Linked DNA regions of Homo sapiens: region 2 is linked to region 1. A link means that fine-mapping ties the variant in region 1 to the expression of a gene that starts in the linked region. Tissue or cell type: fibroblasts. Region 1 holds a variant in brackets; the other region holds the start of a gene. All regions are shown on one strand. Distances are from middle to middle.

Region 1 (8,104 bases):
TCAAGTTTAAGTTTATATATTAATGTCCATTTCTAGATTCCTATTTTCTAAAAGTCTAGAGTTGAATTGGGACAGTAAATGGAAAACAGAGGAAACAGGAGATGCTTTTCTCAACTCTGAGACTTTTAGCCTTCAGTATGGGTTGAAGCATTTTTCAAAGCAGGCAAATAGACAACAATGGGTTTCTTCAAAAAGGTGGGGGAAGGGGCTCTGGACACATTCTGCATCCAACATGTACAAGAAAACTCTGGGTTAAATACAATTAAACAGTATTCTTTTCCAAAGTACATATCAGAGACTTTATAACGGTAATGTACAGTCTGACTCTCCAAGAAGGGGATGTAGTATGCAGAGTTCTCCAAATCTATTTAAATACTGTAAATGCTGTTCTGACAGAGCATCTTAGGAGACTAGTATTCCATAGAACATATTTTGGGAAACCTTGAACCATGTAATTTGTCGCAAGGTACCTTTATAAAACCACATGTCACCTTTCACATTTATATTATTTCTGAATAACACCCATGATTTTGTTCATTATTTATCCAATAAACTTTGATTAGCTTGTTATGGATTGAACTGTGCCCCCCAATTCATAGGTTAAAATCCTAATCCTAATGTGACTACATTTGGAGATAGGGCTGTTAAGGTGGTAATTAAGATTAAATGGGGTCGTAAGAAGGACCTTCATCCAATAGGACTAATATCTTTATAAGAAGAGGAAGAAATACCGAAGATATATTTCTTCCTGAAGGTCACATGAGAACATAGCAAGAAAGTTGCCATCTGCAAGCCAGGAAGAAAGGTCCCACCAGCAACCAACCTGCCGGCACCTTGATCCTGGATTTTTGGCCTCTAGAACTAAGAGAAAATAAATTTCTGTTATTTAAGCCACCCAGTCTGTGGTATATTGTTATGGCAGCCCTAGCAAATGAATTCACAATTCCTATTATGTTTAGGAGATGCAAACGGTGAACAGACATAGCCCCTGGCTACTGGGAATTTGCATTCTAGTTCAAGGGCAGTGTGGGAAATACTGAGTAAGTTTCTTGTATGAAGCTAATCAATTACTTGATACAGAGTCAGCAGCTTGTTTCCCCACAACCTAACATCCAACTGACATTCTTATTGCACGGGAATACTCAAATTATTTGTTTTGCAAATACCTAGCTGAAGAAATGAGCCAGCTGGACCTCTTACCTCTCTCTCATTTTCTGGAAAAACCTGGAATTGCAGCAAGGAATGCATATTCTAGGCTCCCCTCCACAACTGCTCTCCAGGAGCTCAAGGCTCTACACCCTCCATTTCCTCAGCAATGGCTGCAGGAACCACAGTGAGCCCTCTCTGCCCCCTAACTCTCCAGAAGAAAAACAAAGCAACCTGAAGTCAACCCCATCTGTCATATACCCTAGAGGCAGTCTTCTCTATCTGTTTCAGAGACAATGTTTTGGTAACTAAACCACTAACCAAAAACTACTCACTACTTCTTTAAAAATACACAAAAAGAGCAATAGTTTAACAATAGTTTGCCTTCTCTACTGCCATTACAAAAAAAAAAAAAAAACTATAACCAAATAGCCTACTTTAAAGCAATCAATTCTGTTTAGAAAGAGGATTCAAGCAACATAATACCTTAAAATAGAAAGAGAATGTTAAAAAATAATAATAAACAGGAAATGCAGGGATTGCTGACTAGTTATATTATTTCCACTATTTTTTCCACAGCACTGTCTCTAAATTATTGAACTCTCTGCATCTCAAAGCCAAACCCCTTACAAACCAATGAACAGACCTTGATTATTCTAGCCATGTTGCTGGAGCAAATAAAACAAATAGGGCCTCTCTTATCCACAGACACGTCCATTCAACAAAGTCCTTATGTCTAAATATTTGTGCAAGGTATGCATTTTTTTTTTGCAAAGAATTGTTTTGCAAAAGCATCAACAAATAATTTAAAATAATAGTACTAAAGCAATTCAATAACTATTAAGATGATCCAGTCTAGGCCTGGCTGGTGGAAATATTGCACAATTCTACACACAAACAACACAGAATCAATTCAGAGCTTCTAATACAGGCTTCTAGGTTATCCAGAGATCACAACTGCTAAGACCCTGCATTCTGAAAGCCCACAAAATGATTCGCTGGTTACATATACTACAAGTAGAGGACTCCTGCAATGACTTCATTTTTGCCCATGCTTCAGGTAGTCTTGCTTCAGGTACAATGAAAGCAGAGTAAACTTGGGCCAATAAAAGAGAATCAGGCAGGGTGCAGTGGCTCATGCCTGTAATCCCAGCACTTTGGGAGGCCAAGGAGGGCAGATCACTTAGGTCAGAAGTTCAAGACCAGCCTGGCCAACATGATGAAACCCCATCTCTACTAAAAATACAAAATTAACTGGGCATGGTGGTGCGTGCCTGTAATCCCAGCTACTCACAGGCTGAGGCAGGAGAATCACCTGAGCCTAGGAGGTGGAGGTGCAGTGAGCCGAGATTGCGCCACTGCACTCCAGCCTGGGCAATAGAGCAAGATTCCATCTCAAAAAGAAAAGAAAGAAAGAAAAAAGAAAGAATCAGAGTAGAATAAATAAATGATTGTCTTCTTTCCTTTGGTTTTTGGCAATGTAGATATTTAAGCAGGAAATAGAAACAAATAGAAATTTATATGTAAATTCTATTTCCTGCTTAAATATCTACATTGTCAATTTCAATTTGTGGGGAGGAAGTCATTTATTATTTCTTGTTCTTAAAGATTCTTATATTTACATGTCTATTGTTTCTGTTGATAAGTTTCTTAAAAGGTAGAATTCTTTTCTTAATTTTATTACTATACTATCACATGTAAATGGTCACTAAATGTAGGAGTCTCATCCTGAGCAAGGACAAATGACATTGTATTAGAAACAAACTGTAGACCGAATAAGTCTAGACTTAAAAAAAGTCCCACCATTTTCCAGATCCTTGGGGTTTAAACTGACAATTCTTGGGAATGCCATGATAAAATAACTAAGGGTAAAAACAAGACAAAACAAAAACAGTGATTCCTTAGCGTTGTGACAATAAATCCCCAAATACAAGGGTCCCATTTTTATCCAGTCAGCAAGGGTGTGGCCTTGGGCAAAAAGACTACACC[T/C]TCTGTAGCTTGGGTTTGGTTCCCAAGTTGTCATGTTTCAGGAATGAAGAACGGGATATTCAAGAAGACTTCTCTCAAATGACGGGCTATTTACAGAGCATTTAGATCTGGTTACTCATCTATCATCAAGCTGTGGCTATCCAGTGTTCTCTGGATCCTTCAGTGGTGTTGTGGAATTTGATTTTTATCATTTTGCTATTCTACCTCTGCCTCTATCTATTTAGTTTTGAGGTATCAATTGCCTGTATTATGGTCCATGTCTAAACACTGCTTTTGGTTATCAAGGGTTGAATATCAGAAAATATTTAGTTAACGATAACAAGATGTACTATAAGCTATTACTAATCAGCAATGTGCTTGAACTTTAAAATGTTTCTTAATCATCAACTTTTGAATTTCATATAAATATAGCAAGATATTTTTGGGCTGCTTTGTGTAAATGGCAGGCTGAGCTAAATAACAAAGCTCATACTAATATTTTTCTATGTAGCCCAAAAGATTCACATTGTTTATAACATAAAGATGGCATAAACAGATGATATTAATAAAATTTAGTCATACATCTCACTATATAGTCATATAGATAGCATATATAGTCAGAAATACAAAATACAAAGAAAAAGTCAAAACAGAACAAAACACGATTGTGAAGTTTATAAGTGGTTAGCTCAAAACTGAAAAAAATATGAATCCCTGCACAATGTAGGTTAACATTCAGTAGATGACAAAATGAACAGAGGTAAAAATTCTTAGATAATTTTCTTTATTTCATATCGCAAACAAATGGCTAAAAGTTAGTGTTCCTTACTGGCAGAAACTCATTTTGGCACAAAGTTTTTCAACATAAAAATTTTTTCAGCATAAGACCATAAACAGTATTTCAAATACTACATTTGCTATTAATTGGAAAGACAGAGTATAAATCTGTCACTTCGGAAATTATCATCACAATAGAGGAATTTCTTCAAAAATACTTACCACATAGGCATTTTAGACACTCTTGTGGTTAAGAAATATTAAATTTATTAGATATTTAATACATGCTTAAGTGTATATTATGTGCCAGACACTCTGAAGGGAAAAAAATTGTAAATAGCTTGGTTTTCCAACTGCCTACTGGACATCTTCACATGGAATAATTAGTTTTTTCAATAACATTCTGACTTTATTTGACATCTACAATGTATTAGAAACTGGAGAGTCAAAGGTGAATACAACATGATTCTGTAGAACCAGACTATCATACTGGTGGCCACAACCAAACTGATCGTCCCATCTCTTCTAAACCTGCTCTCATTTTTATTAATTATCATAGTCACTCAGCTGAAACCTGAAAGTCAATCTTGATGCATCATCCCCAGTAAAAAATGTCTCTGATTGTCCTTTGTAATTTCTGCCTCATGTTTCTTCTCCACACCCTTTTACGGAATTCTCTCCCTCTCATCAGGACCTCCCAACTGGCCTCTCCACCTTTGTTGTCTTTATCCTCCCCCCATCCTAGAGAAGTCCTCCTTAGCATAATCCTCGTCTGCTAAAGACTTTCCATTTCTCCTTACTAACTACAGAGGAAGGCCTGAAATCTCTAGCTTGACTTCCCAACGTCCTTGCTGATCTGACCCCAACTTAGGTTTCCATTATTTTCTTTATAAGGAAAACACATACATACATATATATATATAAGAAATAATATATATTTAATTGGAATTATATTTTTAATTGACACATAAAATTCATATATATGTATCATGTATAATATGATGTTCTGAAATAGTCCAGATCTATTGTTCAGCATGGTAACTATAGTAAATAACAATGTATTGTATTTTCAAAATCGCTACGAGAGTAGATTTTAAGTATTGTCACCACACAAAAAAATGATAAATATGTGGGCTAATGCAAATGTTAACTAGCTCGATTGAGCCATTCCATTATTTTCTGATTCCTCCACTTGTCCTTTCCTTTCCTTCCTCTACCTTTCTTCATTTTCTTTGTACCTGCAATGACTTCCCTCTACTTCCACCTATTTAAGGGAGGCACAAATTCTAGGCATCCTTTAAGGCCCAGCTCAAATATTGCCACTCCTAGGATGTTTAGCCAGAGCCATCCAGCTAGAACCAATGATTACTTCTGCATATGTACCTCCCAACCCTATATATAACTTTCTAAGGACATGAGCCACTTTCTACTTCATATTTGGGGAGTTTTTGCATGTTTTTTCTCCACTCTACTTTTGAAGCCATCTGAAAGTTATCTGTCTGATGTGTCTTTGTACCTTCCTCAAAACCTGGCCTAGTGTAGACATTCAATAAATGCTTGTTAAGTGGGTGAGTAAATGAAAGAATGAATGGGCAAACAAACTAAAAATAACTAAAGATGGACATGGTAAAATTCACTTGAATGGTATAATCATCAAAAAAGAAGAATGCACTCCATTGCTCAAGAGGTTATAATAACTAGGTATAATGGCTGACATTATGAAAGAAAGAATTTATGCTAAGTACTTGGAAGATTTTCCCAAAGGATTACTTTTGTACTGTGATAATTTCCCACTTAGTAATGAAAGAAAATTATCACTTGGACTGATACCAAAAGTTTTCCTATTTTTTGTTATAACTCTTTTTATTCATACTGGAAAGGACACTTGGGGACAAGTCTATCCTGTCATTTAGATGGCCTACTTGACTTGTTGGTCTCTTATATTTCTGGATTTTCTGATTTTTTTTTAGCCACAGGCACTGCTAGTAGCAACTCACCATTAGTCATGAAGATTTTAACTGCAGGCACATTAGAGATGACAAACCAAGATTAAAGATGTATGATAAATGTGGTAAAAGCCCCTCTCTTGATTTTTCACATCTACACATCAAGATTTGCACCTCTGGTAAGGAATACATAGGCCTAAGGTTGTTTTTTTTTGTTTTTTGTTTTTTCATTGAAGAGAGTAATTCATCTTGTGGAATGATATCTGTGAAACAACTTAAGAACTGTTGCCTGTGAGGAGGTGGGACATAGAAAACAGTTTCCACACATACACATACAAAAAGTAGGGACTGTTCAAATCCCAGCTTGGTCCTACCCTTTGGTGCTGGTCAATAAACTTGGTACCAGATATAAACAAAACATTCCATTCAACATTATGTCAACCTTCAGCAAGTAGGTCATCCATCACTGTACATTAATGTTCTGAGCACCTGTAAAATCTGATGTGCATTCTTTCAGGCCATTTTTTTCAACTTTGTGTCTGTCAGAGATACCCCCCACTATATACGTATTATTTATGTTGGGAGTAGCTTTCTAAATGTCACCCAAATGAATTAGCATCACGCTGAGCCTCGGAGTTAAGAGAGTCGCCATGTGCATTTATGTGTTTTCTCTCCCCGAATACTGACACATTTATATCCTTTCCCCGTCTGCTCTGGCTTTGGCAGAGATGCATAGTACACGCAGTTTATTTTACTATGACATGGTGACAAAATAGAACTTTATTTATGTGAAGCTGGTTAAAAATGCCCTGACCAAAAAACATGACACCAGTTAAGGAAATCTAATAAAACCTCTCGTAGAAATGGTGTAAAGTATAGAGTTTTATTTGGAACTTAATGAGGTTAGTAATGCATACTGTACCTTACTGTGTATACCAAATAACATCAGGCCAATGTGGTGGAATGTTTTTTCTAAAAAGCAGCCCAATCTCTGTTAATTTAATCAGCCATTCTTAGCTCCCTAGCATTTGCTCATTCATTCATTCGTTTATTTTTTTTGACAAAGAGAGTATTTATCACATATCTACTTTAAATAGCTGGAGAGAGATTAGGTTCATTTTTAGATACATGGAACTTCAAACCACTTTTATCAATATTTATCAGTTCCTCTAAGAATCTCTGCAGAATTAACTTACGAATAATGGGGATATCCATCAAAGCTGAAGGAAAAAAAACAGAACTGAAATTTGATTTTATGAAATGTTTGTGCTAAATGTTTTATCATCTAGCAATTATGTTTCAGTATGACAAAAAGAGATACATTCATTTATACATCATGTCATGTGGATTGGCCATGATGATAAAGAAGTATGTACAAATAATTCAAAAAAGCCCAAAATTCCTAGGTACTTCAAATTCATCTATCTATATGCACAGAAATGAATAAAACCAGAGCTTTTCGTCCAAATGCATATTGTTTTTCAATGGCACAACACTGAAAAGCTGATTGCAGATTCTAACGATGCTATTTGTTGCCAAAGTGTATTTGGTTCTTGTCTATGAGCATCATAGAAATGTTGTGGGTCACAAAAGAAAGTCCACCTCATTACTTTAGAGACACAGGTTACTCTTCCAAAGTCATTTTCCCCCTGCCCTTCTTTCCTCCACTTCCCATTTCTCTCTCATTCCTGGGCCTGGTGCAGCTGCTAGCAAAGATCCAGAGACTCAAGGAAGGGGCAATGCAAACCCAGGAAGACCCTAGGGAGGAAGAGCGGCCTTAATCAGCATTCACTGGGATGCCTGGGAAAAGCGTTCAGAGCTGATGCTAGGGTGAAACAGGCTGAATGCAGCTGGAACCCTGAGTTCCAGTCCTGGCTTGCCCATTAATGTGCTGTGTGACTTTGGATAAGGAAATTCAGCTCTCTGGATCTCAGTGTCCTCATCTATAACATAAGTGGGTTGGGAGTAGGACGGGGTACCTCAGTTGATCCCCATAGATCCTTTCTGCTTCACAGTTCTATGACTTTACAGTCCTCTCCTCAGACAAGCACCAAGTTAGAAAGCATCTTTCATCAACTGCAATGAAAATGACATAAAATCCCCACATTTGAGAAATCAATCACATTGCCTAAACAAAATTTGACTGATGAGGATTTCAAATGCAGCCGCTGGTGTAAATAGTGCATTGAAACAGCAATATTTTTGATGAGAAAAAAGTGGATGCTACATGATTTCCCTTTCAATGTAACTCACTATGTCCACTTAAT
Region 2 (8,104 bases), 290 kb before region 1:
GTGACCACGGACTGCGTCCTCCTCACGAAGCTGCGCAACTTCTGCTAATGCTGCAACCCTGGCAAGACGAAATCCCCCTCCCTCTGGCTAGATCAGCCCAGCCTCCCCTCAGGGACCTTCCTGCCCCTCCCTACCCCTCCCTACCCCTAGGCCGCTCCCCCCTTCCTCTGTTGGGATCCGATCCTTGTTCGCTCTTGCAATCCCGCAGCCCGGAGTTTTGCCCCGTGCATTAAAACATGTTCTCTTTCATTTGCAGATTTAATAAACAAACGTAACCATATCACATGGAGCTCCACACTGTCCTTCTGAAAGCAATTCCGCTGTTGAAAACTGAAAAATGGGTGTAATTTGCTTTCAGAAAGTAATGTTAGGGTCACGGCAATTTCTCGGGCCGTTATTTATTTTTACTTTAAAGTCTTTAGGAAAGATTTGCTTATATGCTCGGAAAACTTCCAAATGCGCGAATACCAGCAATCCCGCTCGCCTTCAACGCGTGGGGTAAGGGGGGGTGGGGAACAATTACTGAGTGACGCTAATATGGGGAAACTGAAAAGAAATGTCGATTGTTTTTATTGTAATAGAAGGAGTGAGCAAACAGAAAAACCAACCCCGGGTGATCGGAAACAGGCAGGCGGAGAATTAAAAGCGGGTTTCAGACAGCAACAGGCCCCTCCCCTGCTCTCGCAAGGAGAAAGCGGGCGACGAGCGCTCGCAGCCCGTGGGGCTGATCCCACCTCCCGCAGGGCTCCGGTCGTGTCGCTGTCGGACCGCAGAACGCCGGGACGCATTTCCGAGCTCGGGCCCGACCCAACCCGCTGCCATTCTAGCTACCTAGTGGAGCCGCGGAGAGACTCTTGAACCGTGAGGCTCCTTGATGAGAAGGTGGAGAGGCTGCCGGGCTATTCTCCGAGCATCTTCCGGCCGAGCTCTGCTCCTCTCCGTGCGCTTGCGGCTTCTCCTTGGGCTAGCGCGTCCGCAGTCCCTCCAAGTCCAGGCCGCAGGTCAGTGTGCGGGCGCCTCCTGTCCTCCTCTCCCACCAGAGGACCCCTGAGGGCTGTCTCCATCCCCAATCCCCGCGACTGCTCCTTTTAGCCGCCATCCCCTCCCGCAGCGCAGATCCTGCAGGGGCCAGCGGTCCAGGGCGGACCCTCCCTCGCCCTGGGCGCGGGGCGAGCTTCTGGCTGTCACTTGCCGCTGCAGTTTCAGGGAAACTCAGCTGGCCGCTTACCCTGCAAGACGGGGACATAGCAGAGGGCCGAGTTCTGGAGAAGCTGGGCTTGTTTTTCTCTCTGCACCGCGCGCAATGCCCCAACTGACCCTGAAGGGTCTTGCCTTTACTGCATTTGCCCCCAGACGGCTAGAAGTCAATGCACTATGAAAATCCCAGTCCCGGACCTCGGACTCTGGCTGTCTTACAATCCCTGCAACTCCTCCGAGTGGACAAGAGGCGGGCACCGTCGCCTGGGCCTCGCTTGGGGGGGGGGGGTCCTGTCCCCAGCAGGGGGCAAGTTGGAGGAATCAGCTCCTTAATATTTTCTGCTAGCTCTGCTTGTCATAACTGCAACTCGGAATAGAACAACCTCTCTCCCGTGCATACGCACCCCCAACTCTCGCCCTATCCTCCCATCCACAGTCATCACTGACCTGTAGACCCGGAGGAGCAGGCTTCCGGGGGTCGGTCCAGGTTGGGGATACAGGGAGGGGTCCTCGCGTTCCGCACAACCTGTAGTGCTTGGGTCTGACTTCGGCAGCCCTCGGGTACAGTCTGCCGGGCTAGATTCCCGTTGCTTCTCCGCGTCTCTCCGCGGGCCGCTCTAGCGCCGGGAAGGGGGCGCCGCAGGTGACTGCCCGCGGCACTGGGACGGCTGACAGATTTATGGAGACTTCACAGCATCTGGCTGGGGTCCGCGAGGGCAGGGCGGAGTCCGGTCGATCCGATGCTGGGGTCTAAAGCTTCCCCAGCCACACGCCTGGGCCGAGTCGCCCCCAGAGTCCCCGGCCCCTGCTCCCCTTGGGCGGGTGTACACAAGGATCCGGCCAGCGCCGAGTGTACTGGTTCCTCCCACCCAGTGTAGCCCCCTCCTTCACACTCTCGGCCCGGCTTCCAGTCTCCCACTGAGTAAATATTTATCCAGAGAGCGAGTCGCCCCTCGGAGGAGGCCTCGACGCGGCTAGGGAAAGGCTTTTTGGCTTCTCCCTGGCCTGAGCCAGCTGCAGGCCTTACTGGTGTTTTGGTTTTGGTCTTAAATTTCTCCTTTTAGTCGAAATTCTTCCGATCTCTTTGAGATCTTCTGAGTCCAGAGTGAGCAGTGTAACCAGGCGGCAGACTCCAGCTGACCCTTGTTCTTGTTCTAGGTCCTGCATCCTTACATTCATCGGGACTGACCAGACCTTAGTGTTCTCTCTTTTCCTTCCTTCATCCTCTTTCTCTGCCTCAGATCCGTCGTCTCTCGGTCGGTCTCAGCGGGTCGCTGACTACCTCGCCCTAGCACTCGGTCCGCGCCCCGGGAAGGCTTCAGCATCACCCTCTTCTGCTGGGATCCCGCTGACCCTGTCTGCAGCTTCGGCTTCTCTTGCTCCCAGAGCGGGGTCTTCGGCTTGCCGCGGATACTTAGTGGCCCAAAACACCTAAAATTGACTCTTCCTGCGCTCTTGAGAATGCCAAGAGCACCCAGTACCTGCAACCGCCGGCATGAGTGGGGCCTGCGGGGAGCCGCCAGAGCTGCGGACAGGCCCCCTGCCCACTGAGTTGCTACCCCTGGCACGCCCAGGGGATCCGCAGCAGCTGAGGCCACATGGTCACAGCCAAGTTCAGCAGGTGGAAAGGGAGAGATGGCATTGAACCTATGTGAGAACTGGGAAGATGTGTGGCAGCTGAAGGAGTTGGTAGGAACAAGAGGGAGTTGTATGTTACCTCCATATAACCAGAGCTCTAAACCATATCAGTTTCTGAACCAGTCTAGGCTGGTGCTGCAGAACTGCTAAAGCTCTCGCAGAGTCCCCAGACCCCCCGCGGGACATGAGGTCTTGCCTGTTCGTATGCGAACATCCTTGTACCCGCCTAGCAGCCCTGCAGACTGCAAATTTTCCCTGGGTGCACGGAAGTAGAGCAGATTTGGCGCAGAGGTCGATACTCACTGCCTGTCTGTGAGGGGGGAGGAGGATTCCTTCCTGGTCAAGTTGCCGGGCATGTTCATTCCCTCCCGCAAGCCTAAGGCAGAGTCATAAGCTCCCCTACGATGCGGCAAAGTCTCAACTAATTTATCTACCAGCCTTAAGAAGGAGCTGCTGCTTCTAAAATCTTTAGATTTCCGAAGGCTCTCCTTGTGTAAAAATGCCAGGCGGTGCCACACGATGTCACCCAACAGGTATTGGAGGTCAGACCAGGCTGAAATTGCTATCAAGTCAAACTTCAAGAAGATTTTAAACATTTGAAACCAACCAACAAAAAGGGACAAGTTCAAGTATGTCTAGTTGTGGGATTTCCCCCAAGATTCCGATTCTAAAGAGTGGTGTTTTAGTTCATCTTTACCTTTCACATCCTCCATTCTGTTAGGTAATTTTGAATTTAGAGTGCATCCTAACCATAGAAGTGGGAATCTGGAGATCTGTTCCTTTGCAGAAGCATGGCTGATCATAGTTTTTTCCTGGGTTCTTGCAACTTACTGACCTGAGATCTGGGACCAGTCAGCTTCTCTGGGTGTAGACCGCAGCCACACACATCCCTGGGGACTGTTGGGGAAGCAGCCTGAATCCTGTGTGCACAAGGAGCCTTCTGGATTGTCAAGTAGCAGTAACAGAGTTCACGACCCCAAGCAGTACAAACTCCCAAATTCACGAAAATATTTCTCTTCTTGTTTATTATTTTGATTCACATTCTCCACAACCCTAACTGCAAATATTAATAACTTTGGCTGCAAAAAAGCATACGGTACACTTTAGATTAGACTTACAGTGAATAAAAGTGAAAATTCAGAAGTAGGCAGAACGACAGGGCCTCTGGAGCTTAATGGAAGACGAGGGAATTACATCCATGTGCAGCGTCGGTGTCCACTGTCTTGGGACTAAGTCTCTTTCATATTTAAACAAAACTCTTTCGAGAGGGCTCGCTGGTTTGGAGAACCCTCACAAACGCTGCCACCGAGGGCCAGGGGCCCAGGACAGTGGCTGAATGTGGCAGAGCCTTGGGCTCCGTAGTGAGTGCCCCACGCACTGGCAATTGGTCGACTTGGGGCTGTGCGCTAGCGTTAGCCGCCTGTGGTTCAGTTCCCCGCACACGGCGTGGCCCGTGCCTCGAGCCTGTGTGGCTAGTGGTTGGCCGGTCCACCTGGACTGGGGGGTCGCCGCAGGAAGCTGGCGGTAGGAGGAACCTCCCTGGCCTTAACAGTGGCCCCCACCTGTGGCTCGGGCTCCCCGCAACCTCCTGGTTTCTTTGGCCGGCCTATCTTCTCACACCTGCGCTCTCGCCACCTGGCATGGACTGAAGTGAGGTAGAATCGGCAGGTGACACAGATCCTCTCCTGACAGTCCCCAGAGGCCCGCATGACAGATTTTGCTAAGACAACTCCCTCACCCCTGTGCACGGTGGCGCCCGCCTCCCACCTATAGCCTTAACTTCAATTCTGAGATGTCCATCGTTCCCCGGAGGAGGTCTCCTCGGGCCCCTTCTCCCTTCGAGTCATTCACATTCAGACCAAACGCTTTCATTTGTTTATTCAGCATTTTACCAGCCTGATTTTGCTGTCTTTTTGTGCCGCTTCTGGGAAGATGTCAAACACCCATTTTCATTGTATTTAGTCACCCAGGTGGGGAGCTAGCCTGAAAGAGACAGCGGAAGGAGTTTCCTGGACTGCGCTGTCGCTCACCGACCCGCACCAATCACCATGCAGCTTGCCCTCGGACCCGCCCCTTTTAGGGCGTGTCCCCAGTGAGTGATAGACGGAGCCGCCCTGCCCTGCTCAGCCCAGCCCACGTTGCTGCTTAGATTGAAATGCAGAACTCAAGCCTCTTTCATCGGGGCACAGACTTCCTTTTACTTCTTCCTTTTGCCCTCTCGCCTCCTCCTCCTGGGAAGAAGCGGAGGCGCCGGCGGTCGGCCGGGATAGCAACAGGCCGGGCCACTGAGGCGGTGCGGAAAGTTTCTGTCTGGGAGTGCGGAACTGGGGCCGGGTTGGTGTACTGCTCGGAGCAATGGGTGAGTGGCGGCGGGGGACTCTGTCAGAGCCGGGAAGGGAGGGAGGGAGCGAGCGGGCAAGGGAGGGAGGGAGGGAGGGAGCGCGAGGGCGCGCGCCACTAGGCGCTCACATTCTCTATTGACTTTGCTCGTGTTCCTACAAGTTGTAGGAACACGCTAAGGGTCAGCGGCGCACAGCAGTTCAATGTGAACGCTGGCTACTGGGTGGCTGTTGATGCCATTTTCTGATTTTAAGAGAAGGGAGCTGTGGCATCAGCGAGCCCCTCAGCCCGAGTAGCAAACCAAGTTTTGTTTCACACGCGCGCACACATGCAAACAAAACAGGAAAAGAAAAGAAAAGAAAACAAACAACAACAAATAAAACACCCTCTAGCTTCCCCTAGACTTTGTTTAACTGGCCGGGTCTCCAGAAGGAACGCTGGGGATGGGATGGGTGGAGAGAGGGAGCGGCTCAAGGACTTTAGTGAGGAGCAGGCGAGAAGGAGCACGTTCAGGCGTCAAGACCGATTTCTCCCCCTGCTTCGGGAGACTTTTGAACGCTCGGAGAGGCCCGGCATCTCACCACTTTACTTGGCCGTAGGGGCCTCCGGCACGGCAGGAATGAGGGAGGGGGTCCGATTGGACAGTGACGGTTTGGGGCCGTTCGGCTATGTTCAGGGACCATATGGTTTGGGGACAGCCCCAGTAGTTAGTAGGGGACGGGTGCGTTCGCCCAGTCCCCGGATGCGTAGGGAGGCCCAGTGGCAGGCAGCTGTCCCAAGCAGCGGGTGCGCGTCCCTGCGCGCTGTGTGTTCATTTTGCAGAGCCAGCCTTCGGGGAGGTGAACCAGCTGGGAGGAGTGTTCGTGAACGGGAGGCCGCTGCCCAACGCCATCCGGCTTCGCATCGTGGAACTGGCCCAACTGGGCATCCGACCGTGTGACATCAGCCGCCAGCTACGGGTCTCGCACGGCTGCGTCAGCAAGATCCTGGCGCGATACAACGAGACGGGCTCGATCTTGCCAGGAGCCATCGGGGGCAGCAAGCCCCGGGTCACTACCCCCACCGTGGTGAAACACATCCGGACCTACAAGCAGAGAGACCCCGGCATCTTCGCCTGGGAGATCCGGGACCGCCTGCTGGCGGACGGCGTGTGCGACAAGTACAATGTGCCCTCCGTGAGCTCCATCAGCCGCATTCTGCGCAACAAGATCGGCAACTTGGCCCAGCAGGGTCATTACGACTCATACAAGCAGCACCAGCCGACGCCGCAGCCAGCGCTGCCCTACAACCACATCTACTCGTACCCCAGCCCTATCACGGCGGCGGCCGCCAAGGTGCCCACGCCACCCGGGGTGCCTGCCATCCCCGGTTCGGTGGCCATGCCGCGCACCTGGCCCTCCTCGCACTCCGTCACCGACATCCTGGGCATCCGCTCCATCACCGACCAAGGTAGGGGCTCAGAGGCTGGGCGTGTGGATGTGCAGCGTCTGCCCCCGCACTCTCGCGGAGGTCCCAGTATCTGCAGCCTCAGGGACACTGTCTTTCCCACCACCTGAGGCTTTTTCCTTTGGAAACGTAAGGAGTCTTCCTAGGGGGTGTTCTGATCTCATTAACTTGAAACTCATGCCCCTGGTTTCCTTGCCACACACAGTCTTCTGCCTCATCTCAAACTACCAGACCCATAACATCCCCCCATCCCCAACACATGGTTCGCATTTTCCACCCTCCCCCGCCTCTCGCGCCGAGGCAGCCTCAGCCCGGCTTGCTCACTTGGAGAGTGCGGCCGGGGCTGGACTTGGGGCGCAGCCCGGGAGGCCCGAGCCTGCTTGGGGCTGCCGGCTGCAGACTCCGCTGTGGGCAGAGCAGCTTGCTTGGGGATCACTACGGCCGGGAGAAGTCTGGCCGGGAGGAGTCCAGCACGCCTTGGAAATTGAAGTATTCTCCGATTCTGGTAATCAGGCCAAATTTGCTCAGGCAGGAAGTTCAAATGTCACCTAATTGGTTTCGTTCTTATGCTTCACTTCATTTTCCTCGGAAATGGAGGTCCCGAAGTTACTACTAGTAACTTGCATGTAACTCATTCCCAGACGAAGTCATATTCACATTCTCTCTCTCTCTCTTTCTCTCTCCATTCACTTTCTAACTTAACAGACTTCACTGTATATATCTTAGGAAGGGAAGTGGCATCAGCCACTGCAGTGATGGAGATAAAATGCAGGCAATTCCATGCTGTCCTTTTACTGTTCTTTTCAGTTTTCCCTGAGCCTGCCACTTTCCTTTGGGGTCCCCGGGTCCCCGGGTCCCCGAGAATGCAAGTGGATATCTATCTAGTTCCTGCATGTTTTAAGCAGTGCCACCCCACTGTTTCTTTCCTTTCTCACCCCTGACCTTGCCTAGTCCTAAGCGTCCTTTCTGCCTTGTCAGAAGGATTCCCCGAGCCCTCCTGCCCAGTCCGGCTTCCGCAGGAGACCTGAGTTTGTTTTCTTTTACTGAGTTTTTTTTTTTTTTTTTAAGGCGTTAACTTTTTTCTTGGTAGGGAGAAAAGAAAGTCTGAATGACCTAGATGCAGAATTTAAATAATGTGTAGATAGTCCACTTTCTTAATTTCTCAGCCTAAAGTTTTAAAAGTGTAGAGGAAAAATTAAATAGGAAAGGGGGAAATAGTTTCTTTAATTACTTCCTGCCTTTCTTGGTTGCCACCACATTGGCACAATTATCTTTTTAAGTAATTAAAGCAGGGCTCTGATTTCTCATCTTCTTGTTTTCTGACTGCAAGTTTACAAGAGCCCAGTTTTGTCTTATTTGGAGCTACTTGGAGCCATAGTTGGAGAGAGTTTGCCCTTGATTTATAGGATAAACTGACCTCACTGACATTTAAAGGAAGCCCCTGTTCATGGGAAAGTGTGAGATCAGCAGAAATGGGGGCTCA

Direction of the effects. Alleles are on the strand shown, and positions count from the first base shown. SD is a standard deviation of normalised expression in the study named.
For the expression in fibroblasts of the gene that starts at base 4,961 in region 2, allele T in region 1 goes with a lower level than allele C (small effect, 0.38 SD a copy in GTEx).

What was found. PIP is the estimated chance that this variant, and not a neighbour inherited with it, causes the effect.
Region 2: it holds the start of PAX9, and the variant in region 1 is fine-mapped to the expression of PAX9 in fibroblasts (GTEx, PIP 0.90).

Annotation. Positions count from the first base shown.
Region 1 is chr14:36,949,688-36,957,791 of GRCh38, forward strand. All of the region lies in intron 1 of SLC25A21 (solute carrier family 25 member 21), which reads right to left. MIR4503 (microRNA 4503) reads right to left here and starts at 2,704; the gene lies at 2,622-2,704. The variant T/C (reference allele first, on the strand shown) is at 3,136.
Region 2 is chr14:36,656,900-36,665,003 of GRCh38, forward strand. It overlaps PAX9 (paired box 9), which reads left to right and starts at 4,961. Exons shown (of 4, transcript NM_001372076.1): 1 at 4,961-5,194; 2 at 5,998-6,624. The coding sequence starts at 5,191. LOC105370455 (a long non-coding RNA gene) reads right to left here and starts at 1,850. Exons shown (of 2, transcript XR_943758.3): 1 at 1,645-1,850. RefSeq lists a promoter at 3,695-4,892, a cis regulatory region at 4,152-4,664 and enhancers at 5,429-5,940, 5,941-6,450, 6,451-6,961.